6 separate regions of the Homo sapiens genome follow, and all the other regions are linked to region 2. The links come from fine-mapping of genetic effects on gene expression. A gene starts in region 2. Each other region holds a variant in brackets. All regions are shown on one strand. Distances are between the middles of the regions.

The links. PIP is the estimated chance that this variant, and not a neighbour inherited with it, causes the effect. A credible set is the group of variants that fine-mapping cannot tell apart.
Region 1: its variant is the best candidate, but not a certain one, in a credible set for the expression of ERMP1 in sun-exposed skin (GTEx, PIP 0.83).
Region 3: its variant is the best candidate, but not a certain one, in a credible set for the expression of ERMP1 in breast (GTEx, PIP 0.58).
Region 4: its variant is the best candidate, but not a certain one, in a credible set for the expression of ERMP1 in whole blood (TOPMed, PIP 0.72).
Region 5: its variant is the best candidate, but not a certain one, in a credible set for the expression of ERMP1 in blood mononuclear cells (TOPMed, PIP 0.70).
Region 6: its variant is the best candidate, but not a certain one, in a credible set for the expression of ERMP1 in sun-exposed skin (GTEx, PIP 0.68).

What each region holds. Positions count from the first base shown.
Region 1 is chr9:5,853,255-5,858,331 of GRCh38, reverse strand. It overlaps a transcript of ERMP1 not described here and the pseudogene AK4P4. Among named protein-coding and RNA genes, the nearest start is that of ERMP1, 23 kb to the right of the region's middle. RefSeq lists a silencer at 4,451-4,500. The variant C/A (reference allele first, on the strand shown) is at 2,123.
Region 2 is chr9:5,830,745-5,835,821 of GRCh38, reverse strand. ERMP1 (endoplasmic reticulum metallopeptidase 1) reads left to right here and starts at 2,705. Exons shown (of 15, transcript NM_024896.3): 1 at 2,705-3,132; 2 at 4,794-5,077. The coding sequence starts at 2,795. RefSeq lists silencers at 2,619-2,838, 2,919-3,138.
Region 3 is chr9:5,900,600-5,905,676 of GRCh38, reverse strand. The region is part of intron 3 of MLANA (melan-A); the gene reads right to left. It also overlaps a transcript of BRD10 not described here. Among named protein-coding and RNA genes, the nearest start is that of MLANA, 12 kb to the right of the region's middle. The variant A/G (reference allele first, on the strand shown) is at 2,383.
Region 4 is chr9:5,674,131-5,679,207 of GRCh38, reverse strand. All of the region lies in intron 2 of RIC1 (RIC1 partner of RAB6A GEF complex), which reads right to left. Among named protein-coding and RNA genes, the nearest start is that of INCR1, 47 kb to the right of the region's middle. The variant G/C (reference allele first, on the strand shown) is at 2,712.
Region 5 is chr9:5,682,088-5,687,164 of GRCh38, reverse strand. The region is part of intron 2 of RIC1 (RIC1 partner of RAB6A GEF complex); the gene reads right to left. Among named protein-coding and RNA genes, the nearest start is that of INCR1, 55 kb to the right of the region's middle. The variant C/T (reference allele first, on the strand shown) is at 2,754.
Region 6 is chr9:5,875,098-5,880,174 of GRCh38, reverse strand. It overlaps a transcript of BRD10 not described here. Among named protein-coding and RNA genes, the nearest start is that of MLANA, 13 kb to the left of the region's middle. RefSeq lists an enhancer at 53-554. The variant G/C (reference allele first, on the strand shown) is at 2,533.

The sequences.
Region 1 (5,077 bases), 23 kb before region 2:
AACCTGTCCCTCTCTTTGGAACTTCTCAGCACTGGGACTAGTAATATAATCATATTTTTGCAAATACTTGCCTTCATCTCTCATCATTTTTACTTCCCCAATCTGGGTTCCAGGCACTGACTCAGAGCCCTTCAAACCATACTCTTTCTTGCCTCCAGAAAGCTCTTGCTGACTATTCTGTGGCCATGCTCACTGCCCTACTTGTTCCCCTGATGAGTGAATGCTCCTATGAGAGCACTAACCTTCCTTCAATGAGGTCTTTCAACCACTTCCCTTTCTTCTGCTCTGGTCTGTAAGTTATGCCAGGACAAAGATTTGTCTTGGGACCTGCCACATCCTGGGCACCTGAAAAAGAGTCTGGAATATAGGAGGTGCTCAAATATGTGTCAGTTGACTATCAGCTCTTCTTTCTGGACTGTGAGCCCTTAGAGAATGGGGTCGACATCTTCTAATATTTTTAAGCCTCTACTAGACACCTCACAGAACATAGCTTATTGCTAGGTGCTTAGTAAACACTTGATGAACAAAAGAATGAGTGAATGAATGTCTTATAAAATAGGCAGATCCCTAGGGATCCCAGTCAAGGCTACAGATAACGTGGGATGATATGCTGAATATTTTCTAGATCCCCTGCAGATCCACTGTCCACCCTTGCTTACCCTGTTTGGTACTCAGGAAGTTGACCTTTATAAGATGGTATTGACAGGTTATTCTGACCTCTGGTTGGGTTCAGTCAATGGGATGTACCAATAGATTATAAGTAGGGAGAAGAGTGAAGTCTAGGTATAGTAGATGCTCATCATTTGCAGATTCTATATTTGCAAATTCGTCTACTCACTAAAATCTATTTGTAATCCCCAAATCAATTTTCATGGCACTTTTGTGGTCATTGAGACACACGCAGAGTTGTAAAAATTTTGAGTTGCTGGATGTGCACGTGCCCAGCCGAGGCAAACAAAGTGACACAGACTCTGCCTTCTTATTTCAGCTCTCATATTGAAAAAAATTTCGGCCATGCACAGTGGCTCATGCCTGTAATCCCAGCACTTTGGGAGGCCAAGGCAGGAGGATCCCTTGAGCTCAGGGGTTTGAGACCAGCCTGGGCAACACAGCAAAACCCCATCTCTACAAAAAATACAAAAATTAGCCAGGCATGATTGCACAGGTCTGTAGTCCCGGCTACTTGGGAGTCTGAGGTGGGAGGATGGCTTGAGCCCAGGGAAATCAAGGCTGCAATGAGCTATAATTGTGCCACTGCACTCCAGCTTGGGTGACAGAGTAAGACCCTGTCTCCAAATGAAAAAAAAGAAAAAAAAGTCATGGTCCATTTAATGTCATGTTTTCCACATGGTTTTCATTGATGATTTCAATGTTTAAAATGGCCCCCAAGACTGGTCATAAAGTTACTGAAGTGTCCTTAAGCCCAAGAAGGCTGTAATGTGCCTTGCAAAGAAAATTCCATGTATACGTTTTGTTCAGGCATGAGTTACAGTGCTGTTGGGCGTGAGTTCAAAATTAGTGAATCAACAATATATATTAAATAAAGTGTCCCCAAATCAGAAACACACATAAAACAAGGTTATGTATTGATTGGTGAAAATGTGACCAGAGACTCGCCAGACCTGACCCTGTATTTCCTTTAGGAGCAATGGTTCAGTATTTGCTAATTCAGTGTTTGCTGTGACTTTATGGAATGTGACTACTGGCACAGGGCTGAGTTAGTCCCCGCACAGGGCTAAGGGGAGGGGTTGTCTTAAAAGTCTCTCCTTCCCTGAGTAGGAGAGTAACCAGAGTACCAGAGCCAGCAGAGAGGGTGCCAGAGGTTGGGGCCAAGAAACAAAGTTCTTGGTGCTCCCTCTGGTCGTCTTGGCTGCGCCTTTGGCCACCCCACTCCTCCCAAAGGCAATGGCTTCCAAACTCCTGCACATGGTCATCCTCCGGCCGCTCCTCTTGGCCCAGAAGTTTGGCCTCCAGCATCTCTCCAATGGCCATTTCTTGCGGGAGAACACCAAGGCCAACACCGAAGTTACTGACATGGCAAAACAATAAACAGAGAACAGTCTTTCGGTTCCAGACCATGTGATCACACACCTAATGGTGTCAGAGTTGGAGAACAGGTATG[C/A]CCAGCACTGGCTCCCAGATGGTTTTCTGAGGACTTTAGGACAAACCAATGCCCTGATTTGAAGACAAAATATATGAAGTGGATTTAGTGATCTGTTTGAAGATTCCATTCGAAACACTTAAAGATTGTCTCAGCCGACGTTGGATTCACCCTCCTTGCAGCAGGGTATATAACCTGGGCTTCAATCCACCTGGTGTACATGGGATTGATGACATCTCTGGAGAACCATTAGTCCAGCAGGAAGATGATAAATCGAAGCAGTTGCTGCCAGGATAAGACAGTACAAGGTTGTGGCAAAGCCAGTCATTTAATTATGCAAGAGCCCAGGCTTGCTCCACCATTTTTCTGGGATGGAGACTGATAAAATCTGGCCCTAAGTCTACATATTTTTCTTAACAAGATCACACCTATTCAGTCCAAAGAAGAATCAGGAAGATTCTTCACTTGTTCAATTGTGTGTGTAGTATTGGGGCTATGTCCAAATTAGAAGCTAGCTGAGATAGCTTGCAGCATCTTTCTAGCTTAAATGGTGAACTCTTAGGAAAACTAATGAGCAGAAAGAGCTCATGAAGTGTCCTTTAAAAAGAAGGGCCCCCTGCACATATTTAAGGTATCTCTGCACATGTCTCAATACCTCCACAAGAAAGCAACTCAGGCTGGATTTCAAACAGCATACAGTCTAAGCTCTAGGTGATTTTTGACAGTTGTGTTGTTGCTATAGTATCCTTTTTACAAGTGATGGTGGTGGTCTTTGGTTCTCCTCATCCCCTCAAAGGCTGTTGAATCACAGCACCAGTAAGCCTGAGAATGCTAAGGGCTCTAGCCCAGGCTTTCTCCCAGATTCTCTGGTATGTGCCCTCCTGGTGACAATGAAATTGGCTAATTGCTCTCAGTGGTCTGGAGTGACTATGTCCACAGTTCATCTTTCACAGTAGGAATCACTCCTTTTTTGCTTCATCCATACTCCATAGAGTCTCTCCTTTTCAGACATCCTAGGAGGAAAGGATTTAGCTTCTATTTTTTTAGACTATATATTTTTGACATCTGTTTTTTCTTAGGCTATTACATTTAAGTTATTAAATAATACAGATAATTACTGCTTTTATCTCTCTCAAATTTTTCTTTCTAAGAACTGAGAACAAGAAGATTGCTTTGAATCTCTTCATGCACTGGGAACTGAGCTATGAAAGAGGGTGTTATTAAACTGCTGGTCTGAACTCTCATGGATTGATGTTTCCCCTTTCTGTTACTGCGAAAAGATTCAACCCCTAAAAGTTTTTTGGCAACCCCCAAAGTCTTTTGGGAATCCTCAAAAAACATGGGAAATATTAACCTACATAAATGTTGAAAGATCCTGTCTTATGTATAGAAGTAATAAGACCAGGCCGGGTGTGGTGGCTCACACCTGTAATCCCAGCACTTTGGGAGGCTGAGGAGAGTGGATTACCTGAGGTCAGGAGTTCTAGACCAGCCTGGGCAACATGGCAAAACCCCATATCTACCAAAAATATGAAAGATTAGCCAGGCATGGTGACGCACGCCTGTAGTCCCAGCTACAGGCTGAGGCACAAGAATTACTTAAACCAGGAGGTGAAGGTTATAGTGAGTGGAGATCACACCACTGCACTCCAGCCTGGGCGACACAGTGAAACTGTGACTCAGAAAAAAGTATAAGACCATATGGAACTACTGACTAATAAATAGTTAAACTTTTTGTTCAAGACAGCAAAATGTATTTTGAAAATTCTGCTACCTCTTGATGCTGACAGTGTTTTTCTCCCGTGAGTGACCCAAGCATATTATAAATAATTGATAAAGGGAATGGAGCTGGTTGGGTGGAGCAAAAGGTTGCACTAGCTATGCCTAGACTGAATAGAAGAGTGTTATGATGATGAGAAAGCAAAATCTTTATTTTTTTTCTATTCCAAAGATTCACTCTGATTCAGCCTGACTAGTACTGACAGTTTATGGAAAATCTCAGCTGTTCTCTTTCTAGCACCTAGATACAGATATGAGCATGGCCCCTTCTCCTCCTCCAGATCCCCAGTAAAACTTCACCCACAGCAGCTTCTTTCTCCCCACTGGAGAAAGAGTGGGGAGCCCAAACCCCTTTCTTTTATCTAATCACCTGGCCACAATTTATCCCCCTTTGTTAAAATGATATATAAGCTCCAGGTCTAACTGCTTCTTTGGCTCTTCACTTCTTTTCTGTGAAGCCCCCATTTATGTAAAAATATTAACATCCATAAAATGAATGCCTTTTCCTCTGTTCATCTGTCTTTTGTCAGTTTAAAGCCTGTCTGGAAGACAGAGAGTCTCACCACCCTAGAGCAGTGCTACTCAGGGTGTCTCTGACCAGAAGCAAGGCTACATCTAGAGAGCGTGTTAGAATTGCAAATTACTGGGCATTCTAGATCTACTAAATCTGAAATTCTGTGGGCAAAGACCTGGGATCTGTTTTCATAAGCCTTCTGGGTGATTCTAACACATGCTCGAGTTTGAGTACCACTTCCTGGAGAGATGGGCAGGGGGTAGTGGGAGGGTAGGCACGGAGCACTTGTTTAGGACCCTTGCCAGGCTCTCTAACTCCCATCTGCCTGGCTTTCCATGATTTCCTGGTCCTTGTTTCTCCAGGCCAAACCACATTTAGGAACATACACAATCTGGAGTGCAGAATTCTTTGAACTTTATCTAGGTGGCTGTTTCTTAACCAACAGAGCATAGTTTCTTACAGGATATGTATGGCTCTTCTGGGAGATCAACACTGAAACCCCAGGGCATCTCTGAGCACAGCAACAGGACAAGAGAGAATTTAAGTGACATGGTGAAGGGGATCAGGTTATACCACCCCAAAGTATGCCACCTTGGCATATGATTATTTTGGGCTGAAAGCAATGGAGAAATAGCAGTTGTAAGAAGAGCTCTCTGCCCTTTCCTTTTCTGCCTAGAAGCAGG
Region 2 (5,077 bases):
ATAAGCCTATATGTTCTAGATGTGGTCACTGTGCTGCTCTGCCTGGGATGGAGACTGAGTGATCTTATATAACATCACCTAAAGCATGACCTTTCACTGCTCAAAACCACCCCAGAGTCCTCACCAGGGCCAGGAGGCCTTCCTTGCACTGGCTCCTACCCACCTCTGTCACCTCACATCTACCAGGGCTCCTGGCTCAGTCTGCTTTAGTGCATGCCTTATTCGACGTTGCCTCTGAACATCCCAGCTCACTTTCCTCTGCTGGAACATTCTCTCCCCAGGCTTATGTGGCCCTGTTCCTCACTTCATTCAGGTCACCTCAAATGTCATCTTCTCAGAGAGACTGTGAGACCATCTCTGATCACCCTAATAAAACAGCAGCTTTTGTCAGTCTCAATTTCCCTGCTTTATTTTTCTTTATGGCACTTAACTCTCTGACATTTTATACACACACACACATGCGCGCGCGCGTTCATTGTCTCTTTGTTAGAATGTAAGCTCTCTGAAGGTAGAAACATTGATTTGTTCTTCTCTGTTTCTCCACCTTAATCAGTATCTGACACAAGTAGATATCCAACAACTAGTAGCTAAAAATATTCAAACGTGAATACCGTAGACTATACAAGTATAGAGAAAAACTGCCTTTCAGGAACTCAGCTGTAACTTAACTCCTACCACCTAGAGTTCTATGATTATCATGATAGGAAAGTAGCTTTTAATCTAATCTACAAAGGATTTCATGAGAAGGAAAATTCTGAAAAATAGTTTTTAATGAGAATCTTATGTGAGGATCTTTCACACACACACACACACACACACACACACACACACACACACACACACATCTATCTATCCATCTATCATCTGTCTATCTATCTAATCCTCACTGAAGCCCCTTAAGGCAGGTATCATCTGCATTACCACAGATAAATACACGTGGACTCTGTGAGATTGTAACTTGAATAATGCCATGTGTACTAAAGGTACCAGATCCAGGAACTCAGATCTACCCGTCCCCAACAGCCAGGCAGCCAGGCATTTCCCTATTATGGTACCATGGGATATTGTCAGACATACACACACACACACACACACACACACACACACACACACACACATATATACATACATATAGTTATGACCATGGGCTAGGCTCTTATCCAGAGCTAAGCACTATGGATACAGTGATGATTAAATAAGATAGACACTGTCTTTAGTCTCATAGTGCTTACAGACTGAAAGGGATCTTGTAGAGCTAAAATTATGCTTGCTGCCACAAAAGTGGTATGTTTTCATTTTTTCATTCACTCAAGAAATATCTATTGACTACATACTATGTGTCATGCTTTGTGTTAAGAGCAAGGAATAAAATGGTGAGTAAAACCAGACCTGATTCCTGCCTTCGTGGGGCTTACAGTCTAATGAGGAAGTTATGAAATAGTCACATGCAAACATGGTGCTGTGAGATCCTACAAATAGGGGAAGCAAGCTTAATTAAATTAGGAGATTCTTGCTTGAGGAAGTACCACTTAATCTGAGATTTAAAGGATAACTAGGAGTTAAAAAGACAATGAGGAGAGAGAAGAACACTCCAGGTAATTCAAACAGCATGTGAGAAGATCCTATTGTAGAAGGAAAGATGCGTGCAGGAAGTCTTTGAAAGAGGCCAGTGTGGCTGGAGAGCTGGAAATAAGAAGCATCCTGGTGTCAGAGGAGCCTGAGAGGTGGGCAAGAGCAGGACTATAGGGCATTGTATGAAATCTGACATATGTGCTAAGTCAAAATCCGGCAGTGTGCTCTCCCAGTTGGTCTCTAGGTTAATGCTCATGCTAATGTAGCAACTCCAAGCTAGGGACAAAAAACCTTGGAGCAGAGAGGCTCATGGGTACCGGCAAGCTGGAAGAAGACTAGATAATCACTAGGATCTGCACTGAAACCAAGGCTCTGCTGCTTAACCGCCCCAGAGAGTCGTCAAGTGAAGAATGGCCTTTCTGAACCTTCACTTGCAGAGTGCTAATGTAGTAGTGGAACAGAATGCTGTTTTGGGAGCCCATGAAATTAGATTTACATTCTTCATCTGTTATCTCTACGTTTCTCAGGTTATAAAATGGGAACAAAGATATTTCCTTTTAAGTATTGTTAAAGATAATTAAATAAGATGATGTATTAAAGGACTTGACCTAGCGCTTAGCTCATAGCAGGTATTCAATAAATAATAGCCATTATTTTTCTTTATCTGTTAAATGGAGACAGTAATAGCACAGATTAAGTTGCTGAGTTATGAAGATCTGATTAGATTATGCATGTGAAAGCAATAGGCCGGGCCTCCTCTGCGTAATCTTATTTCTAATTTTAAGAGCCAGGAACCCACTTTTTTGGAGCCTGATGTTCTAATATTCCTTCCTTACGAAAGCCAGGTCATTGCTTTTTTCATCTGCCTGATGCACTGTAAGAGCCTTGTGTGTTCTTTCAAAAGCGATCTCTCATTTTTCTCGTTTTGGGTTTTTAGGTGTCTTTACATTTGGCAATCTCCGTCCTACAGAGGGCTGGAAAAGCCCTGCGGGAGACGGCATATCCACCACCCGCTGCTGGGTCGGCCCTGCAGCTGTGTGCACCCGAGAACTGCCAAAGAAGCTGGGTCTTGGCGCGGCGGGACGGGCCAATCAGAAGAAGTTTGGCCCTCTGCAGTTTCCGTCCGCTCACTAGGAGGCGCTGCGGCAGCGACGGCGGCGTCGGCGGCGGCCGGGGCTGTCGCGGGTTGGGGCGGTTGGGCTGGCAGCTGAGGCTCGTGGCCATGGAGTGGGGTTCTGAGTCGGCTGCTGTGAGGCGGCACCGCGTCGGAGTAGAGCGTCGAGAGGGAGCGGCGGCCGCGCCACCGCCGGAGAGGGAGGCCCGAGCGCAGGAGCCTCTGGTGGATGGGTGCAGCGGCGGCGGGAGGACGCGGAAGAGGAGCCCCGGGGGTAGCGGCGGCGCGAGCAGGGGCGCGGGGACCGGGCTGTCTGAGGTGCGCGCCGCGCTGGGGCTCGCGCTCTACCTGATCGCGCTGCGGACGCTGGTGCAGCTCTCGCTGCAGCAGCTCGTGCTACGCGGGGCCGCTGGACACCGCGGGGAGTTCGACGCGCTCCAAGCCAGGTACCGGCCGCTCCCTCCTGGCACGGCCCGCGCGTCCGTTTGCGGCTCCTGCGCAGGCTCCGGGGCACCGCACCTGTGTGCACCCGCCCCTGCCGGACCGCTGGGACTCGCTGACCCCTCCCAGGCTGCACGTGGGGTGGGGTGACCTTGCTTGTCCTTCTTCTGGGGTCTGAATTGCCGGGACTTGGGGCTTGCCTGTCCCCGGTTAAGCTCGTGGTGCAGATTGGGGTTGCCAGGTAGATTGAACCTGCTTTCCACTGTCTGCCCTTCGTGCAGATGGTTGGTTGTGAGTCGTCTCCCCATATTCTGGAACAGCTTCCCCTTTTTACCTTGCTTAGCCCTTCTGCTTTCCAGATGGAAATTTGTGTACCTAGACTGTTGTATAAATTCGCTTTGGGGGCGGGGAGTTTTGGAAGGCGCTAGTGCACTGTTCTAACTTTCTGAGGGTTACAGCCCCCACATCTGAAGGCTATAGAAACTCTTTCTGGAACACCGCCCAGTCAAAATTTGGTATGCAGTCTGATAAATTCTCAGATCCCTGCAGTTTATCTTTAGGCCCCTTGGATTAGTGACTGTGTAAGGTTTGACTTTTTTTTTTTTTTTTAAGACCTTTAAGAATGCTAGGAAAGGTGATTAAGTCAAAGATATTGTAACCCAGGTGTGTCAAAGCTCATGAAGTGTTAAGCTGGCGTCAAGTTTTCAACAGCTACTGTGTTCTAAAAAGTTTTTGCTAGAATGCAAAGTGTTGCAAGCTTATTAAGGACTTTCTGAAACGTCTCCCACCCCCACTTCCAGCTTTCCCCACTTGGAATGCAGTGAAAAGACAAAAACAGTTTTGTTTTCATTAGGGGTACAGTTGGTTTTGGCCTGAATTGAAGTTATTAGACCTTGGGTGTATGCTAGGAGGGCTAGGTCCATCAAAAGTTTCCCCCGCCCGCCTTATTTAACCTCTTGACTTGATTATTTTTGCTCATTGGTTTCTGCTACTTAAAGTCATTAACCCAGAATCTGTAACGTTCAGGAGTATGCACAGTGAAGTTATATTCTATCCTGCTTAGTCTTTAGCTTTTTTTGTTTGTTTTCTGAGACAGGGCCTGGCTCTGTCGCCCAGGCTGGAGTGCAGTGGCTCCATCTCGGGTCTGTAGCCTCCACCTCCCAGGTTCAAGCAGTCCTCCCACCTCAGCCTCTTGAGTAGCTGGGACTACAGGCGGATAGTAGTCTACATCTGGCTAGTTTTTGTAGTTTTAGAAGAGATGGGGTTTCACCATGTTGCCCAGGCTGGTCTCAAACTCCTGAGCTCAAGCAATCCACCCACCTCAGCCTCCGAAAGTCCTGGGATTACAGGCGTGAGCCACCGTGCCTGGCCAGTGGTCACACGTTTTGAATACATCCCTAGTCCTTGTATTGGTTTGATATGGGGAGAAGTTGGGAGTGGGATGGTGGAGAAAACTGAAGGGGTCAACTCGTGGGAGGCAACAATAAAAATATGGAACTTTATAAGTGATGTTCACTTGGTGTCTGAAATAATGAAAGGCGGTCCCTTTTATATAAGGCAAAGAACTAAGCTTTTTTGGGGAGGAAGGGGTGTGTAGTGGAAAAGTTACCCACGCTAAGTGTCAATTTTAACTACAAACCTTTGTTATTCTTTTGGTTACTTCCAGGGATTATCTTGAACACATAACCTCCATTGGCCCCAGGACTACAGGAAGTCCAGAAAATGAAATTCTGACCGTGCACTACCTTTTGGAACAGATTAAACTGATTGAAGTGCAAAGCAACAGCCTTCATAAGATTTCAGTAGATGTACAACGGCCCACAGGCTCTTTTAGCATTGATTTCTTGGGAGGTTTTACAAGCTATTATGACAACATCACCAATGTTGTGGTAAAGCTGGAACCCAGAGATGGAGCCCAGCATGCTGTCTTGGCTAATTGTCATTTTGACT
Region 3 (5,077 bases), 70 kb before region 2:
TTAGGTATTCTTTAGTTAGCAGCTGGTTGAAAGAGTTCAGCTCTGTCTTAAGACTTGAAGTCAGTATAAAGGAATGCTTAAGGTAAGGGAGTCTGCAATCTGTCATGTGATGCTATACCAGAGTCAGTTTGGAAAGTATACCACATTATATGGGGTTAATTAAAAAAAAATTTTTTTATGGTTTGAAGGGCATGATTTAACCCTTTCCTTGCATTGTCTTGTTCCTAATTTGATATTGCCACAAAGAGTTCATTCTGTCAGTCCTGTAATCTCTATTTTAAAATTAATGCTGGTCAGTTGTACCTAAAACTCTAAAAGGGAGGGAGTATAATGAGGCATCTCTCACCTCCCTTCCCGTCATGGCCAACACTCAGTTTTTCAGGTTTCCCTGGGGTCCCCTTGGTGAAGAGGGGGTCCATTCAGTTGTTTGGAGGATTTAGGATTTTGTTTTTAGTTTACAGGAGGAAGGAATTAGGATTATTTTAAGATACTCATAATGCCTATGAAATGGTATAGTGTTATTTGAAAGTGGATTTGAATTAGTTGTAAATGTATGTTGCAAACTCTAGGGAAACCACTGAAAAAAAGTAAAAAAGAAGTATAAGGCCGGGCACGGTGGCTCACACCTGTAATCGCAGCACTTTGGGAGGTCAAGGCGTGTGGATCACGAGGTCAGGAGATTGAGACCATCCTGGCTAACACAGTGAAATGACATCTCTACTATAAATACAAAAAATTAGCCAGGCATGGTAGCGGGCACCTGTAGTCCCAGCTACTTGGGAGGCTGAGTCAGGAGAATGGCATGAACCCAGGAGGCAGAGCTTGCAGTGAGCCCAGATCATACCACTGCACTCCAGCCTGGGCAACGGAGTGAGACTCCGTCTCAAAAAAAAAAAAAAAGAAGTGTAACTGGACTGGGCGCGGTGGCTCACGCCTGTAATCCTAGCACTTTGGGAGGCCAAGTGGGTGGATCACTTGAGGTCGAGTTCCAGCCTGGCCAACATGATGAAACCCCGTCTCTACTAAAAATACAAAAATTAGATGAGCATAGTAGTATGCACCTTTAATCTCAGCTACTCAGGAGGCTGAGACAGGAGAATCACTTGAACCTGGGAGGCAGAGGTGGCAGTGAGCTGAGATCGTGCCACTGCACTCCAGCCTGGGCGACAGAGTGAGTGAGATTCTGTCTCAAAAAGAAAAAAGTATAACTGATATGCCAAGAAAGGAGAGAAAATGGAATCATATAAAATGTCCAGTGAAAATCACAAAAGGCAGAAAAAGAGTAAAGACAAAAATAGAAACAAAGAACAGAGGCAACAGGTAGAAAACAGTAACAATATGGTAGATATCAATCCAACTATATCAATAACTACTTTGAATATCAATGGTCTAAATGCACCAATTAAAAGACAGATTGTCAGAGTGGATCAACAAACAAGACCCAACTATGTGTTCTCTACAAGAAACCCTCTTTAAATATAAAGACACATACATGTACATTAAAAGTAAGTGGATAGAGGCCAGGCATGGTGGCTCACACCTGTAATCCCAAGCACTTTGGGAGACCAAGGCAGGCGGATTGCCTGAGCTCAGGAGTTCAAGACCAGCCTGGGCAACATGGTGAAACCCCATCTCTGCTAAAAATACAAAACTTAGCCAGGCTTGGTGGCGCACACCTGTAATACCAGCTACTTGGGAGGCTGAGGCAGGAGAATCACTTGAACCCAGGAAGTGGAGGTTGCAGTGAGCTGAGATCACACCACTGCACTCCAGTCTAGGTGACACAGCGAGACTCTGTCTCAAAAAAAAAAAAGTAAGTGCATAGAAAAAGATATACCATGCTAACACTAATGAAAAGAAAGTAGGAGTTCCTATATTAGTTTCAGAAGGAGATTTCAAGGAAAGTTATCAGGGATAAAGAGGGATATTACATAACGATAAAGGTGTTCATTCTCCAAGAAGACATAAGAACACCTAACATTGCATGTACCTAAGAACACAGCATCAAAATACATGAGATAAAAACTGATAGAACTGCAAGGAAAAATAGTTGCATCCACTATGAAGTTGGAGTTACAGTTGGAGGCTTCAACATCTCTCTATCAGAAATAACACAAAGCCAGCAGGTAAAAAATCAGTAAGGACTAACTCATTGTATGAGGCCAACATTACCCTAATATCAAAAACAAAGATATTACAAGAAAAGAAAATGACAATTCGTTATCTCTCATAAATATAGATGCAAAAAAACTCAACAACATATTAGCAAATCAAACCTAACAATATATAAAAGGAATTATATACTGTGACAGAGTGGAACTCAACAAAATCTTCGATTAACTAGATATAATAGACATCTGTAGGCTACTTCATCCAACGACA[A/G]CAGAATACACTTTCTTCTCAAGCTCAGAACATTAACCAGGATAAACCACATTCTGGGCCACAAAACACATCTTAACAAATTTAAAAGAATAGAAATTATACCATGTTTGCACTTAGACTATAATAGAATTAAAGCAGAAATCAATACAGAAAGATAACTGAAAAATTCCCAACACTTGGAGATTAAACAACACACTTCTACATAACACATGAGTCAAAGGAGAAATCTCAGGAGAAATTTAAATATATTTTGAATTAAATGAAATTAAAATATGATATCAGAATTTGTGGGATACTGCTTAGCAGTGCAAGCAGTATTTAGAGGGAAATGTATGACATTGAATGTGTATATTAGAGAAGAAGAAAGATCTAAAATCAGTCATCTAAGCTTTCACCTTAGGAAAATAAAGAGAACAGCAAATTAAATCCAAAGTAAGCGGAAAAATAAAAATTAGAGCAGAAATCAATGAAATTGAAAACAAGAAATCAGCAGAGCACAATGGCTCATGCCTATAATGCCAGTACTTTGGGAGGGCAAGGCAGGAGGACTGCTTGAAGCCAGGAGTTTGAGACCAACCAGAGCAACATAGTGAGACTCTGTCTCTACAAATTAAAAAAAAAAAAAAGAAAATTAATCAGACCTGGAGGCACATGCTATAATCCTAGCTACTATGGTAGCTAGCTGTAGTCCTAGCTACTCAGGAGGCTGAGCCAGGAGGATTGGAGTGCTTGAGCCCAGGAGTTCAAGGTAACAGTGAGCTATGATTGTGCCACTGCACTCCAGTCTGGATGACAGAATGAGACCCTGTCTCTAGAAAAAAAAAAGGAAAGAAAGAAAGAAAAAAAAGTCAGTAGAGTAAATCAATGAAACCAAATGCTGATTCTGGGAAAAGATCAATAAAATTGATAAGCCTTTAGCTAGGCTAAGAAATAAAAAGGCACAAACTACTATTATCAGAAATAATAATGGACATGAAAAGGATAAGCAAGGAATACTATGAACTATGCTCACAAATTTGAAAACCTAGGTGAATGTAACAATTCTTTGAAAGACACAATCTGTCAAAATCCACGCAAGAAGAACTAGACCATCTGAAGAGATTTATATCTATTATAAAAATTGAATCAATAATAACTTTCCAAAACAGAAAGCACCAGACCCAGATGAGTTCAGTGGTGAGTTCTACCAAACATTTAAGAAAGATATTATACCAATTCTCTATAACCTCTTTCAGAAGATAGAAGCAAAGGGAATACTTTGTAACTCATTGCTATGAGGCCAGCATTACCCTAATACCAGACAGATATTGCAAAAAGAGAAAACTACAGCTCAATATCACTCATGAATACAGATGCAAAAAATCTCAACAAAATATTAGCAAGTCAAACTAACAATGTATAAAAGGAATTACATACCATGACAAAATAGGATTTATGCCAGGTATGCAAACCTGGTTCAATATTGAGAAATCAGGCCAGGCGTGGTGGCTCACGCCTGTAATCCCAGCACTTTGGGAGGCTGAGGCAGGTGGATTGCTTGTGCTCAGGAGTTTGAGACCAGCCTGGGCAACATGGTGAAACCCCATCTCTACCGAAAATACAAAAAAATTTAGCCAGGCGTGGTGGCTTACACCTGTGGTCCCAGCTACTTGGAAGGCTGGGGTGGGAGGATCACCTGAGCCTGGGAGGTGAAGGTTACAGTAAGCTGAGATTGAGCCACTGCACTCCAGCCTGGGTGACAGAATGAGACCCCATCTCAAAAAAAAAGAAAAAGAGAAATGAATTATTCTGATACATCAATAGACTAAAGAAGAAATTTGCAAGATTGTATCAATAGATGTAGAAAAAGCATTTGACAAAATCAAACACCCATTCATAATTTAAAACTCTCAATAAACGAGGGATAAAGGGAAACTTACTCAAGTTTGCTGAAGAATATCTAGGTACAAAAAATCAACAGTTAACATCATACTTGAAGCTTTTCTGCTAAGATCAGGAACAAGGCAAGGATGTCCTGTCTCACCACTCCTTTTCAGCATCATACTGGAAGTTGCAAATAACTAATGCAATAAACTGGAAAAGGATATAAAAGGTGTACTGATTGGGAAAAAAAAATAAAACTGCCCTTGTCAATTACCATTTTTTTCTTTTTCTTTTTTTTTTAAGCCTCTCACTCACCATAGGTTAAGAGTATGATCCACTCTACCGGTTCACTGCCAGTTCTCTGTATTTACATTAAAACTGGGTGTACATTTTAAAATATAGATTCCTGAATCCCACCACCAGAGATGATCCCAGAATCTGCCTTTTAGCAAGAACCCCAAAGTATTCCAGTGCAGGTGACCACTGACCATGCATTGAAAAACACAGTGCCCTGACACATGAGTGTAAACTGAGCTGAGAGCAAGGGCCATGAAATTCTCCAAGAATCAAAAGTATTTTGTCCTTGAACTTCCAAGTGAAGATGTAAAACTGGTTAATATAAAAACCACTGTTCAGTTTATTACAAATCATTTCCCACTTCCTGTTGCTACAAAAAGCAGCCTTTCCTTTCAAAAGATGTTTTCCAGGGCTCAGGGGAATTGTTAACCAAGGGAGAAATTTTAAGAGATCTAAATTCCAACCAGCCTCTCTGTGGACAAATGGAAGTTGAAAAGTAGACATTTCAAGCTTAATGAAGATTGTTAAAGGTGGA
Region 4 (5,077 bases), 160 kb after region 2:
AGATATAGACCAATGGAACAGAACAGAGCCCTCAGAAATAATGCCACATATCTACAACTATCTGATCTTGGACAAACCTGACAAAAACAAGAAATGGGGAAAGGATTCCCTATTTAATAAATGGTGCTGGGAAAACTGGCTAGCCATATGTAGAAAGCTGAAACTGGATCCCTTCCTTATACCTTATACAAAAATTAATTCAAGATGGATTAAAGACTTAAATGTTAGACCTAAAACCATAAAAACCCTAGAAGAAAACCTAGGCAATACCATTCAGGACATAGGCATGGGCAAGGACTTCATGTCTAAAACACCAAAAGCAATGGCAACAAAAGCCAAAATTGACAAATGGGATCTAATTCAACTAAAGAGCTTCTGCACAGCAAAAGAAACTACCATCAGAGTGAACAGGCAACCTACAGAATGGGAAAAAATTTTTGCAACCTACTCATCTGACAAAGGGCTAATATCCAGAATCTACAATGAACTCAAACAAATTTACAAGAAAAAAACAACCCCATCAAAAAGTGGGCGAAAGATACAAACAGACACTTCTCAAAAGAAGACATTTATGCAGCCAAAAAACACATGAAAAAATGCTCATCATCACTGGCCATCAGAGAAATGCAAATCAAAGCCACTATGAGATATCATCTCACACCAGTTAGAATGGCAATCATTAAAAAGTCAGGAAACAACAGGTGCTGGAGAGGATGTGGAGAAATAGGAACAGTTTTACACTGTTGGTGGGACTGTAAACTAGTTCAACCATTGTGGAAGTCAGTGTGGCGATTCCTCAGGGATCTAGAACTAGAAATACCATTTGACCCAGCCATCCCATTACTGGGTATATACCCAAATGACTATAAATCATGCTGCTATAAAGACACATGCACACGTATGTTTACTGCGGCACTATTCACAATAGCAAACACTTGAAACCAAGCCAAATGTCCAACAATGATAGACTGGATTAAGAAAATGTGGCACATATATACCATGGAATACTATGCAGCCATAAAAAAGGATGAGTTCATGTCCTTTGTAGGGACATGGATGAAGCTGGAAACCATCATTCTCAGCAAACTATCCCAAGGACAAAAAAACAAACACCGCATGTTCTCACTCATAGGTGGGAATTGAACAATGAGAACACATGGACACAGGAAGGGGAACATCACACACTGGGGACTGTTGTGGGGTGGGGGCAGGGGGGAGGGATAGCATTAGGAGATATACCTAATGCTAAATGAGTTAATGGGTGCATCACACTAACATGGCACATGTATACATATGTAACAAACCTACACATTGTGCACATGTACCCTAAAACTTAAAGTATAATAATAATAAAATTTAAAAAAAAAGAGTAAACATGGTGAGAAAAATGTTTGTTCAGTGGAAGTTTTTTCAAAACAATGTAGTTTTAATTTACATATAATGCTATAAGTAAAAATAACCCTTATATCTATGCTCTAATTCTTTTCCTGTGTTTTAATGTTTACAAAAAAAAATTGAGATGAACATAAAATATGGAAATACAAAGGCCTACAATAGCAAAAGCAACTTTGAAAATGAACAAAGTTGGAGACCTAACACTGTGTGATTTCAAAAATTATTATATATCTAGAGTAATCAAAATGATGTTAAATATATACAAATAGATCATGGAACAGAATGAAGTATATAGAAGTAAACCCACACATATGTAGACAACTGATTTTTGACAAAGGTGCAAAAGATATGCTGTGTAGAAGGGATAATCTTTTCAACCAATTGTACTGGAACAGATATCAAGATGCAAAATATGAACTTAACAACAAGAAATCAAGGATCCCATCTAAAAAAATGGGCAAAAGATTTGAACACACATTTTACCAAATAAGACACACACATAACAAATAAACAAATGAGAAAAATGTTCAACATCATTAGTTATTAGAAAAATGCAAGTTAAAATTATAATGAGATATCACTACACCACTACCAGAATGACTAAAATTAAAAAGGCATACCCTACCACATGTTGGCAAAGATAGAGGAAAATAGAAATTCTCATACACTGCTAGCGGGAATGTAAAATGGTATAACTACTTCAGAAAAGTTTCACATTTCCTTTAAAAGTCAAATATACTTCTACCATATAATGTAGCTGTTCCACTCATGGATATTTACCCAACAGAAAAGGAAATACGCATCCATACAAAGACTTGTACATCAATGTTCATGTAGTTTTGTTTGTTACAGCCCCAAACGGGAAACAAGTCAAACTGTCCATCAACAGATGAATGGATAAACCAACTGTGAGAAATCCGTAAACTAATACTCATAATGAATTACTGATTCACGACAAAATGGATGAATCTCAAAATATGCTGAGAGAAACTAGAAAAAATAAGTATACAGTGTATGACTTAATTTATATAAAACCAGAAAACACAAAGTAATTGGCAGTGACAAAAAGCAGATCAGTCGTTGGTTTTGAGAGAGGTGGGGATTCTTAAAACAGTAGAGCAATTTTTTTCTTTAAACCCCATTAAAAAAGTGCCAGTGAGATTTCTTTTTAAGATACAAATTGATAAGGAGATGCCTATGGCTCTAATAATGATGCAGAAATAGAGCTTTCAAAATATTACTAACATTTCATTATTAGCCATGTATTCTTGAGCAGGTTACTTAACCTCTCTGTACCCTAGTTTGCTCAACTGTAT[G/C]ATGGGAATATAAAAGTATCTACCTTGAGAGGATTGTTATGAATAACAAATTAATTTTAATACACATAAAGCACTACAACAGTGCCTAGAACATAGACACCTCCCAAAATTTACTATTATAATTATACAATTTAATCTTCAAGTACACCGTTAATTCATATTCAATATATTTCATACAAGGATAAAAAACTATAGAATACATTTGAGGAAAAGAATCATTAAATTAGTAACGTTTCAGAATCTGATAAAGCTTTGGTTACCTAGAAAGTTTGCTTATCCAGGCCAGGTGCAGTGGCTCACATCTGTAATCCCAGCACTTTGGGAGTCTGAGGTGGGCGTATCACTTAAGTCCAGGAGATTGAGACCAGCCTGGGCAACACAGCAAGACCTCGTCTTTCGTTAGCTTTACAAAGGTGGTTTAGTTTTGGGGAAGGGCCATTATCATTTAAACTATAAATTTCTCCTAAAGTTAGCATGGCCTAGGCCCAGGAATGACCAAGGGCAGTTGGGAGGTTAAAGGCAAGATGGGGGTTAGATTAGATTTCTTTTACTGTCATAATTTTCTCATTGTTATTTTTGCAAAGGTGGTTTCAAGATCAATAATTTACCACTGACTGCAAATGTGCTGTATGCATATTATGAATAGCATAATTTTTATATTCAGTATATAATTAAAACTCTTCCTCATCTTTCAAAGGAAGAAGAGTTTAGTGAAAGTTTAAGCAACTGGTACATTAGTTTTTACATATGATTCCTCCATGTTATTTGTAGGCCATTTTGTATGTACATTTTTCCCCCCTAAAATTCCCACTAGACAGTACAGAGGGAACAGTCTGATAGCTTTATTTTTATATCAGAAATAATTTCACATTAATTTATTAAGTGACTACCTTTTATATTACGCTAAATATTAAGACAACAAAGAAGTTAGAAGAAATTATACTTGTCGTAAGTTGAAGAAATAAAGTACATAAAGAGTAACAAAATAATTTAATATTTTTGGCCACTGAAAATCTAATTTTTATTTCACTTATTTATTACTTATAGTTGTTAGATAGGAGTTCTAAGTTTCTCTTCAAAGAATCGATATGTCAGTAAGTTCAATTCTTTGCCTTCTACTTTTAAACTTAACTTCCTCATAAAGCAATCTTTTTAGATTACCTCCTCCACCCTGACTCATTCCGATTACCTACTCCACCCTGACTCGTTCCCATTACCTGCTCATTCTCCACCCTGACTCATTCCAATTTCCTGCTCTGCCATAACCATTTTTCCCGCCAAACCACTCGCCCAGTCACTCTCTTTAAATTAGCCAATCGGAATTAGTTTAGCCTGTGCGGTCTAACCCTAGCCAAGAGGGGAACGACACAGCAGCAGGGGCCACGTGCGTCAGGGATAAGAACCCCTTCCCCTCCCTTGTCCAAGTGTGCGCTCACCATTGCTCCATCTGTAAGGGCGCACCCCTCTATAGAAGTACACTGCCTTGCTGAGAATTAAAAAGAAAATTTTATATTTGAGTGCTATTTCTTTTGTGGCACCAACACTTTATTTAGAACATAGTTGTAAACCAAGAAGTATCTGAGACAGGTCTCAATCAATTTAGAAGTTTATTTTGCCAAGGTTAAGCATATGCCCGGAACAAAAAAACAGAATCACAGTGACAGTCTGTGATCTGTGCCTTTCTCCAAAGATGAATTTGAGGGCTTCAATCTTTAAAGGGGAAAAGTGGGCTGGAGGGGAGAGAAGGAGGGTATGGTAATCCACAAGTTCCAAGAGAAAAGAGCAGGTAGGGGAATAGTCAATTATGTATTCGTCTGGCATCATTAAACAGGCACTTTACATAAGATATGGTGAACATAAGTAGCTACTTGTGGAGTAGGTAACCTAACCTTTTATCTGTAGTTATCAGCTCAGGAACAAAAGGAAAGGCAGTTTCTTGCATGACTGGGCTTTCAGCTTATTTTTTCCCTTTTGGAGTGGTGAATTGGGGTCCTGAGTTTTTATTATCCTTTCACCACCGTCTTATTTCTAGAACTTTGTGGAGATGTTAAGATAAATATAATATTAGTCATAGTAATCTGGCTTATATTAAATATATTGAGTAAATGCTGACCTGCTTCTAGTAATTTAATTCATCCTTACTTGGGCTATTTAAAACATGAATTAACATTTTAGCTTATATGAATTTTAAAATTCATACAGGATCATAAATGAATTTTTGTTAAATTTTTTTTTTATGAATGACAAATTTCTCCATGTTCAATGAAGAAAACCCAAGAAACACAGAAAGTAACAAAAATAAACTGCCAATAGTTTCACCATTCACAGATAATCATTATCAATTTTTATGTAGTCCTTATGTCTTT
Region 5 (5,077 bases), 150 kb after region 2:
AGGTATTAAAAGAATAATGAGGTCACATTATTAATATGACAATAATTTTAACAACTTGGATGAGATGGACAAATTCCTTGATAAACACAAACCACCAAAGTTCACTGAAAAGAAATCTGTACCCTGAAAAGCCAATGTCTGTTAAAGAAATTATAATTCCAATTCAAATCCTTTCCACAAAGAAAATTCTAGGCTGAGACAGCATCACTGGTAAATTCTACCAACTCTTTAAGAAATAAATAATATCAGTTGAATACAGACTCTTCCAGAACACCAAAGAGAAGGAACCACTTCCTATCTCATTTTATGAGGCCTCATAACAAAACCAGACAAAGACATTATAACTACAGGCCAAGATCCCTCATTAACATATTCTTTTTTTTTATTATTATACTTTAAGTTTTAGGGTACATGTGCACATTGTGCAGGTTAGTTACATATGTATACATGTGCCATACTGGTGCGCTGCACCCACTAACTCGTCATCTAGCCTTAGGTATATCTCCCAGTGCTATCCCTCCCCCCTCCCCCCACCCCACCACAGTCCCCAGAGTGTGATATTCCCCTTCATGTCTCCCTGTGATCTCATTGTTCAATTCCCACCTATGAGTGAGAATATGCGGTGTTTGGTTTTTTGTTCTTGTGATAGTTTACTGAGAATGATGATTTCCAATTTCATCCATGTCTCTACAAAGGACATGAACTCATCATTTTTTATGGCTGCATACTATTCCATGGTGTATATGTGCCACATTTTCTTAATCCAGTCTATCATTGTTGGACATTTGGGTTGGTTTCAAGTCTTTGCTATTGTGAATAGTGCCACAATAAACATACGTGTGCATGTGTCTTTATAGCGGCATGATTTATAGTCATTTGGGTATATACCCAGTAATGGGATGGCTGGGTCAAATGGTATTTCTAGTTCTAGATCCCTGAGGAATCGCCACACTGACTTCCACAATGGTTGAACTAGTTTACAGTCCCACCAACAGTGTAAAACTGTTCCTATTTCTCCACATCCTCTCCAGCACCTGTTGTTTCCTGACTTTTTAATGATTGCCATTCTAACTGGTGTGAGATGATATCTCATAGTGGCTTTGATTTGCATTTCTCTGATGGCCAGTGATGATGAGCATTTTTTCATGTGTTTTTTGGCTGCATAAATGTCTTCTTTTCAGAAGTGTCTGTTCATGTCCTTCGCCCACTTTTTGATGGGTTTGTTTGTTTTTTTCTTGTAAATTTGTTTGAGTTCATTGTAGATTCTGGATATTAGCCCTTTGTCAGATGAGTAGGTTGCAAAAATTTTCTCCCATGTTGTAGGTTGCCTGTTCACTCTGATGGTAGTTTCTTTTGCTGTGCAGAAGCTCTTTAGTTGAATTACATCCCATTTGTCAATTTTGGCTTTTGTTGCCATTGCTTTTGGTGTTTTAGACATGAAGTCCTTGCCCATGCCTATGTCCTGAATGGTAATGCCTAGGTTTTCTTCTAGGGTTTTTATGGTTTTAGGTCTAACATTTAAATCTTTAATCCATCTTGAATTGATTTTTGTATAAGGTGTAAGGAAGGCATCCAGTTTCAGCTTTCTACATATGGCTAGCCAGTTTTCCCAGCACCATTTATTAAATAGGGAATCCTTTCCCCATTGCTTGTTTTTCTCAGGTTTGTCAAAGATCAGATAGTTGTAGGTATGTGGCGTTATTTCTGAGGGCTCTGTTCTGTTCCATTGATCTATATCTCTGTTTTGGTACCAGTACCATGCTGTTTTGGTTACTGTAGCCTTGTAGTATAGTTGAAGTCAGGTAGTGTGATGCCTCCAGCTTTGTTCTTTTGGCTTAGGATTGACTTGGCGATGCGGGCTCTTTTTTGGTTCCATATGAACTTTAAAGTAGTTTTTTCCAATTCTGTGAAGAAACTCATTGGTAGCTTGATGGGGATGGCATTGAATCTGTAAATCACCTTGGGCAGTATGGCCATTTTCACGATATTGATTCTTCCTACCCATGAGCATGGAATGTTCTTCCATTTGTTTGTATCCTCTTTTATTTCCTTGAGCAGTGGTTTGTAGTTCTCCTTCCCTCATTAACATATTCTAAACAAAATTATAGCAAATTAAATTCAACCTTATAAAAAAAAAACATCACAACCAAATGAGGTTTATCCAAGAATGCAGGGTTGGGGTTTAACAAAATTAAATACATGTAATTTACCTTATTAACAAACTAAAAAAGGAAAACCATGACAGTCTGAATACATTGCATTAAAAGCATTAGACAAAATTCAACATCCATTCCTGATTAAAAATTCTCAGTAAATTAGGAAGAAATGGGAAACTTCCATATCTGGATGAAAGAGATTTATAAAATATTTATAACATCATTCTTAATGGTAAAAGACTGAATGCCTTCATCATATTCAACACTGTCTAGACTCTAGGCAGTAAATTCAGACAAGAAAAAGAAAAGGTATATAAATTGGGGAGAAAAAGTAAAACTGTTTTTGATATGGTCATTTGCATAGGACTCCTAATGGAATTAACTATAATAAGTGAGTTTAGTATGACTGCTGGACACAAGACAAATATAGAAAAATCAACTGCATTTTTACATACTAATAAGAACAATTAGAAAATGAAAAAAATCAGTAACATTAAAGTTGTGAGATATGGATAAATCTGGCAAAAGAGATGAAATACTTGTACACTGATAACTAGAAAACAGTGCTGAAAGTAAAAATACTTCAATGGAGAAATA[C/T]ATCTTGTTTATATTGCTAAGATAGCAACTCTCCCCAAATGGATCCAAAGATTCAATGTAATCCCAATCAAACTCCCAGCAGACATTTCTGTATAAATTGATGAGATGGCGGGGGGGGGGGGGGGGGGGGGGGGGGGTGGAGCCAAGATGGCCAAATAGGAACAGCTCCAGTCTACAGCTCCCAGCATGAGCAACACAGAAGACGGGTGATTTCTGCATTTACAACTGAGATGCCGGGTTCATCTCACCGGGGTGTGCCGGACAGTGGGTGCAGCGCACTGTGCGTGAGCTGAAGCAGGGCAAGGCATCACCTCACCTGGGAAGCGCAAGGGGTCAGGGAATTCCCTTTCCTAGTCAAAGAAAGGGGTGACAGACGGCACCAGGAAAATCGAGTCACTCCCACCCTAATACTGTGCTCTTCCAACAGGGTTAACAAATGGCATACCAGGAGATTATATCCCGCACCTGGCTCGGAGGGTCCTATGCCCACGGAGCCTCGCTCATTGCTAGCACAGCAGTCTGAGATCAAACTGCAAGGTGGCAGCGAGGCTGGGGGAGGGGCGCCCGCCATTCCCGAGGCTTGAGTAGGTAAACAAAGCAGCCGGGAAGTTGAACTGGGTGGAGCCCACCACAGCTCAAGGAGGCCCGCCTTCCTCAGCAGTCTCCACCTCTGGGGGCAGGGCACAGACAAACAAAAGGCAGCAGTAACCTCTGCAGACTTAAATGTCCCTGTCTGACAGCTTTGAAGAGGGTAGTGGCTCTCCCAGCACACAGCTTGAGATCTGAGAACCGGCAGACTGCCTCCTCAAGTGGGTCCCTGACCCCTGAGTAGCATAACTGAGGGGCACCCCCCAGTAGGGACAGACTGACACTTCACACGGCCGGGTACTCCTCTGAGACAAAACTTCCAGAGCAACGATCAGGCAGCAGCATTTGAGGTTCACCAATATCCACTGTTCTGCAGCCACTGCTGCTGATACCCAGGCAAACAGCGTCTGGAGTGGACCTCCAGCAAACTCCAACAGACCTGCAGCTGAGGGTCCTGACTGTTAGAGGGAAAACTAACAATCAGAAAGGACATCCACACCAAAAACCCACCTGTACGTCACCATCATCAAAGACCAAAGGTAGATAAAACCACAAAGACGGGGAAAAAACAGAGCAGAAAAACCGGAAACTCTAAAAATCAGAGTGCCTCTTCTCCTCCAAAGGAACGCAGCTCCTCACAAACAATGTAACAAAGCTTGATGGAAAATGACTTTGACGAGTTGAAAGAAGGCTTCAGAAAATCAAATTACTCTGTGCGAACCAATGGCAAAGAAGTTAAAAACCTTGAAAAAAAATTAGACGAATGGCTAACTAGAATAACCAATGGAGAGAAGTCCTTAAAGGACCTGATGGAGCTGAAACCCATGGCACGAGAACTACGTGACGAATGCGCAAGCCTCAGTAGCCGATGCGATCAACTGGAAGAAAGGGTATCAGCGATGGAAGATGAAATGAATGAAATGAAGCGAGAAGAGAAGTGTAGAGAAAAAAGAATAAAAAGAAACGAACAAAGCCTCCAAGAAATATAGGACTATGTGAAAAGACAAAATCTATGTCTGATTGGTGTACCTGACCTGAAAGTGACGGGGAGAATGGAACCAAGTTGGAAAACACTCTGCAGGATATTATCCAGGAGAACTTCCCCAATCTAGCAAGGCAGGCCAACATTCAAATTCAGGAAATACAGAGAACGCCACAAAGATACTCCTTGAGAAGAGCAACTCCAAGACACATAATTGTCAGATTCAGCAAAGTTGAAATGAAGGAAAAAATGTTAAGGGCAGCCACAGAGAAAGGTCGGGTTACCCACAAAGAGAAGCCCATCAGACTAACAGCCGATCTCTTGGCAGAAACTCGACAAGCCAGAAGAGAGTGAGGGCCAATATTCAACATTCTTAAAGAAAAGAATTTTCAACCCAGAATTTCATATCCAGCCAAACTAAGCTTCATAAGTGAAAGAGAAATAAAATCCTTTACAGACAGGCAAATGCTGAGAGATTTTGTCCCCACCAGGCCTGCCTTAAAAGAGCTCCTGAAAGAAGCACTAAACGTGGAAAGGAAAAACTGGTACCAGCCACTGCAAAAACATGCCAAATTGTAAAGACCATCAAGGCTAGGAAGAAACTGCATCAACTAACAAGCAAAATAACCAGCTAACATCATAATGACAGGATCAAATTCACACATAACAATATTAACCTTAAATGTAAATGGGCTAAATGCTCCAATTAAAAGACACAGACTGGCAAATTGGATAAAGACTCAAGACCCATCAG
Region 6 (5,077 bases), 44 kb before region 2:
GGCTGAGGTGGACAGAACTCTTGAGGTCAGGAGTGAGACCAGCCTGGCCAACATGGTGAAACCCTGTCTCTACTAAAAATAAAAAAAGTTAGCTGGGCATGGTGCTGTGTGCCTGTAATCCCAGCTACTTGGGAGGTTGAAGTTGGAGAATCTCTGGAACCCGGGAGGCGGAGGTTGCAGTGAGCTGAGATCATACCACTGCACTCCAGCTTGGGAGACAGAGCGAGATTCTGTCTCAGAAAGAAGTAAGTTCTACGTAGCATTTTTGTCTTGTTACATTAAAAAATAATTCAGTAGAACTGACTTATTATCTGACAGGGAGATCCGAGCTATGGGATTTTTTAGAATTATAGTCAGAGGTCGGATAAATCCATTATCTCTGACATTCTGCAGGTAAATAAGCTAGAACCTAGAGAGGCTGACCATGTGAGTCAGATTATCTGGTTCTGTATCTCTGCATTTCCTTCCAGTGAGTCATCCCTGAGCTCATTTAATTGGTCCAGCCCAGTGTCTGCTTGTCAGTTAATTAAGAGAAGCTTCAAGGGCCCAAGCATATCTTAAAGAGCCAGCGGTGGCCACCAGACCAGTGTGGGCGGTCATCAAGGGTCAGGTTCCTTTGGGGCCGCTGGCATTGGGGATTGGGATTGGGTTGATCATGGGTCAACCAGCCCTTTAGGGATGAAAAGGAGGCAGGGTCTCAAGGGGACAATGCCTGCCAGCAGCCGGCTGTGTGGGGGCTGCAACTCCCATCAGGCTTTGATGTGTTTCTTTTTTCTCTTTTTCTTTCTCTCTTTTTTTTTTGAGACAGAGTCTTGCTCTGTTGCCCTTCCCAGGCTGGAGTGCACCATCACACCCGGATAATTTTTTTATTTTTAGTAGAGATGGGGTTTCACCATGTTGGCCAGGCTGGTCTCGAACTCCTGACCTAAAGTGATCTGCCCACCTCAGCCTCCTAAAGTGCTGGAATTACAGGTGTGAGCCACCGCACCCAGCCTGATGTGTTTCTTGATGTTTCTTTGTATTCTTCTGGAAGTCCCTCTGATGTTTAGCAAAGTCTTTGTAATATTTCAGCCAGCATCAGCTCTACTGTGAGTTTTAATGAGGCGTCAGAACAACCCTGGAAGTCAATAGATGGCAACAGCAGAGAGTAAAGTGAGAACTCCATGGGGGAGAAGAAACCCTCAGGAGAGGCAGGAGCTCTGGCATCAACCATCTCTCTGCCCAGAATCTCCTTCCAAGTTGAAGCTTCAGGAGTTTGGGTTCTTCCAGGGTACATTATTGGTCCGATAAGATTGGAAAACACTGAACTAAATAAAGTTAAACAGGTTTCTTCATTACAAACTCTTCTAACATCCTTAATCTACTGATATACCTTATGAATCTTCAAGAGAAGACAGTTGCATTGCCAGCAGAGTTTCTCGAACTATTTAATTATGAAGAAAGTGTTTGTTGGCTTTGGTGCTCCAAGAAACACTCTTTGGGCCACATCATTATGAAGAGTCATTATAGATCCCACCTCTTGTGTGATTGATGGGCCTATTCCTCGAAGTAGTTAACAAAGAGACTAAAATGTAATCCCTTTCCACAAGGAGCTCAGCCCATAAATATCTACTAAATGTATGTCTTCTTACTGAGTGCCAGAAACTGAGCAAACTGATTATTACATGGATTATTTCATATTCTTCTCAAATCCTCACAGCAGCGCTGTCAGGTAGGTGTGATTATTACACCCCTTTTACAGAGGAGAATGAGGCTCATGAGTTTAGATAATTTAGGATTACATAAGTAGTAACTGGCAAATGGCCCAACTCCCATTCTTATACATGGTGCCTCCCCAAGGGGGACACTTCTCAGGAACTAAACACAGTCCAGCATAAGATGCCTTTTAAGTATGGTTGCTCTTCCCCAGGGTCGGTTATTTATTTAGTAACATTGGTTCCAGGGACCCTCCATGTTGATTATTCCTTAATGTTCTCAGGAGCAGGGACTGACTCATTCACCTTTCCATTATCAGTAGGGACTCAATAGATATTTCTTGAATGAATAAAAGTAAATAAATAAATGAAGACACTGATTTTTAACTGGTCCTGGTGATAAATAATTTCTAACAGAGGCATTGCCCAGATCCTTTCAACTAGTCCATAACATTTCTTGAGCTCCTATGATATGCCAAGGACTGGATTCAGTAGTCACCAAAGCTTGTTGAGTTGCTGTTTCCCTTTCTGAACCTCTAATAGTCTACATCACATGAACACATGTTTTCGAAGGCAGACCTTCTTCAGACAATACATGGACAGCCTTAGGCATAAATCCCTTTCCTGTATGAATTCCTCTATAGTAAAAATCATATTGATTGCTTAGGGAGGGGGATACTGAGTTAGTGGTTAAGGGTGTGAAGGATAACTCCTCAAATTAAAGAACTGCACGAACCCTTAACACTCAAAGGCTGGGAAGCATAGAAGGTATTTAATAAGTGCTTGTTGAATGAATGATGCAGACATGCATGAGGCAAGAATGAGGCAAGCTCTGGGC[G/C]CCAAAGACAGAGAGGGAGCAGCCACCTTTTTCTTAGTAGCTTGTTGAGGAAACTGCTTGCTGGCCCCTGCCCAAGCCCATGGTGTGGCCATTGTGCATTCTGCAGGGCACATAGTCTGATATGTGGGGTGCTCACAGTAGAAGCCACCTCACACCAAGAGACTCTGCGTGGGCCTTTCCCCTGAGAGATAACTTGAATGCGATGGTAAAATAGAAGCCAGGGGTTTAAGACCAATCTCTGCAGTTTATTAGCCCCTGGATAAGTTACCTAACCATTCTGAGCCTCAGTTTGCTCAACTGAGAAATGAAGATCGTAATTTTTAATTTAGAATTCTTCTTATTTTTTTAGGTCCTTCCAGATTGCAAAGAAGAGAGGCACACAAATGGTTGCTCAGATGAGGTAGATAAGTTAATTATTAGGAAGAACAGGACAATTTCATAACTGCTTCCTGGAGACCTGGGACAAGCCCCCTCTTCATTAAGGAGATGACTGTGGCTGGAATGGCTTTGCAGGATGCCCCCTGCTTGCTCCTTCTGATGCGTCTTGTTACCTCTTTATCACTCGCACACAGTCAAAGGAGCTGGCTAGGCCAATCGTCACTATCCGGGAAAGAGTGCCCCCACTGGGCAATGTTTCTGCACCAGGTCACCTCATGTCCATAGCTCTCTTTGACTCAGGAAGGGATCCCAGGTCCCGCCAGTTGCAGTCACAGCACTCACAGAACAGCTGAGTCACCTGGAGAGAACAGCCTAAGGCTAGTTTGGCTTTGAGAGTGTATTAGTTTCCTCTGGCTGCCGTAACAAAGTAACACAAATTGGGTGGCTTAAAACAACACACATTTACTGTGTCACAGTTCTGGAGGCTAGAAGGCCACAGCGTGGTGTCAGCAGGGCCATGCTGTCTCTGAAATCTATAGGGGAGAATCCTTCCTTCTCTCCTGGCCTCTGCTGGTGCCTGGCAGTGCTGAGCATTCTATGGCTTGTGGGTGCATCACTCGAATTTGCACCTCCATTGTCACATGGCTGTCTTCTCCCTGTCTCTGTCCTCATGTGGCATTCTTCACTCTCTGTGTTTCTGTATCTTGTTATAACGACACCAGTCATATCAGATTACCTTACCCCAATAGGACCCCATCTTAATTACACCTACAACTACCCTAGTTCCAAATAAAGTCACATTCTGAGGTCCAGGGGGTTAGGACATCAACATATTTTGGTGGACACAATTCAACCCATAACAGAGGTTCACAAACTGTCCAGCACCTCTCCAGCAGAGCTGTGGTGAGTGTTACATGAGAGGCTACACATGCCTACCATGGTGTCACATAAAATAAAATTGTCTTCCTGTTCAATGGGTCTCAAAATGTAGTCCTCGACAGGCAGCAGCAACAGCCCCTAGGGACTGGTTAGAAAAACACACCCTCAGGCCCCACCCCAGACTTACTAAATCAGAAACTCAACCTTCAGTATTTTCACAAGCTCTGCAGGTAATTCCAACACAAGCTAAAGATTGAAAACCATGCAGTCTCTGACCTGGACAGAAGTACAAGCTGATAGAGAAAAGTCCCTGAAAAGTGAATCCCAACTGGGGAGCCCACCCACAGCTTCCCAGCAAAGCCATGAGAAAGATCCCACACCCAGGGCTTCTGCTCCCCCTGCCCCATGGCCCCTCTGAGCAGCCACTGCTTGCTGCCACAGACTCGCTGCTCCCTTGCTCATGGCCTCTCTTGCTGTTTCCTTTACTCCAGTTGAGAGTAAGCCTCCCTCCCTGAGATCTGTTTTTTAATTTAAAATTTTTTAGAGATAAGGTCTCACTCTGTCACCCAGGCTGGAGTGCAGTGGTGTGATCATAGCTCACTGCAACCTCAAACTTGTGGCCTCAAGCAATCCTCCGGCCTCAGCCTGCTGAGTCTCTGTGACTACAGGTATGCACCACCATGCTAGGCCTATTGGTTTTCAAAGATTTTGCAGAGAGGGGATCTCGCTATATTGTCCAGGCTGGTCTCAAACTCCTTTGCCTCAACCAACCCTCTTGTCTTGGTCTCTCAAAGTGTTGGAATCACAGGCATGAGCCACATGCCCAGCCCTTTCCTGAGATCCATACTTGGCTTGTGGCTAGATGAGACGCCATTTCATGGGCCTTTTCTCATCACAGACCTCCCTGAGCAGGTTTTGCCCTCCTCTAACTCCTCTCTCCACCCAGGGTAGGGGTGTTCCAGGCCCCACTCTCAAGCAGAAGTAACCCCCGCCAGTCCAGGCTCGACCAAGTCACTGAGCCCCTTCCTTTAGCCCTGGGGGCTCCTTCCTTCCCTTTTCCTTCAGGGCAACATCTTTCCCCCATCAACTCTGGGTCATCTTTCCTTTCCCTCTTCCAACTACGTACACTGAGGCCAGAAGCAGATGTTTTGGGAATTTATTTGTTTTGTTTGGGTGTTTTACTGTAGAGATGGGAAATTTTTCATTTTATGCTCTTCTTTTCTTCATGTGGATCTGCATACCTTACTGTGAGTGTGTGTGTGTATGTGTGTGTTTATGTTTAACCCTC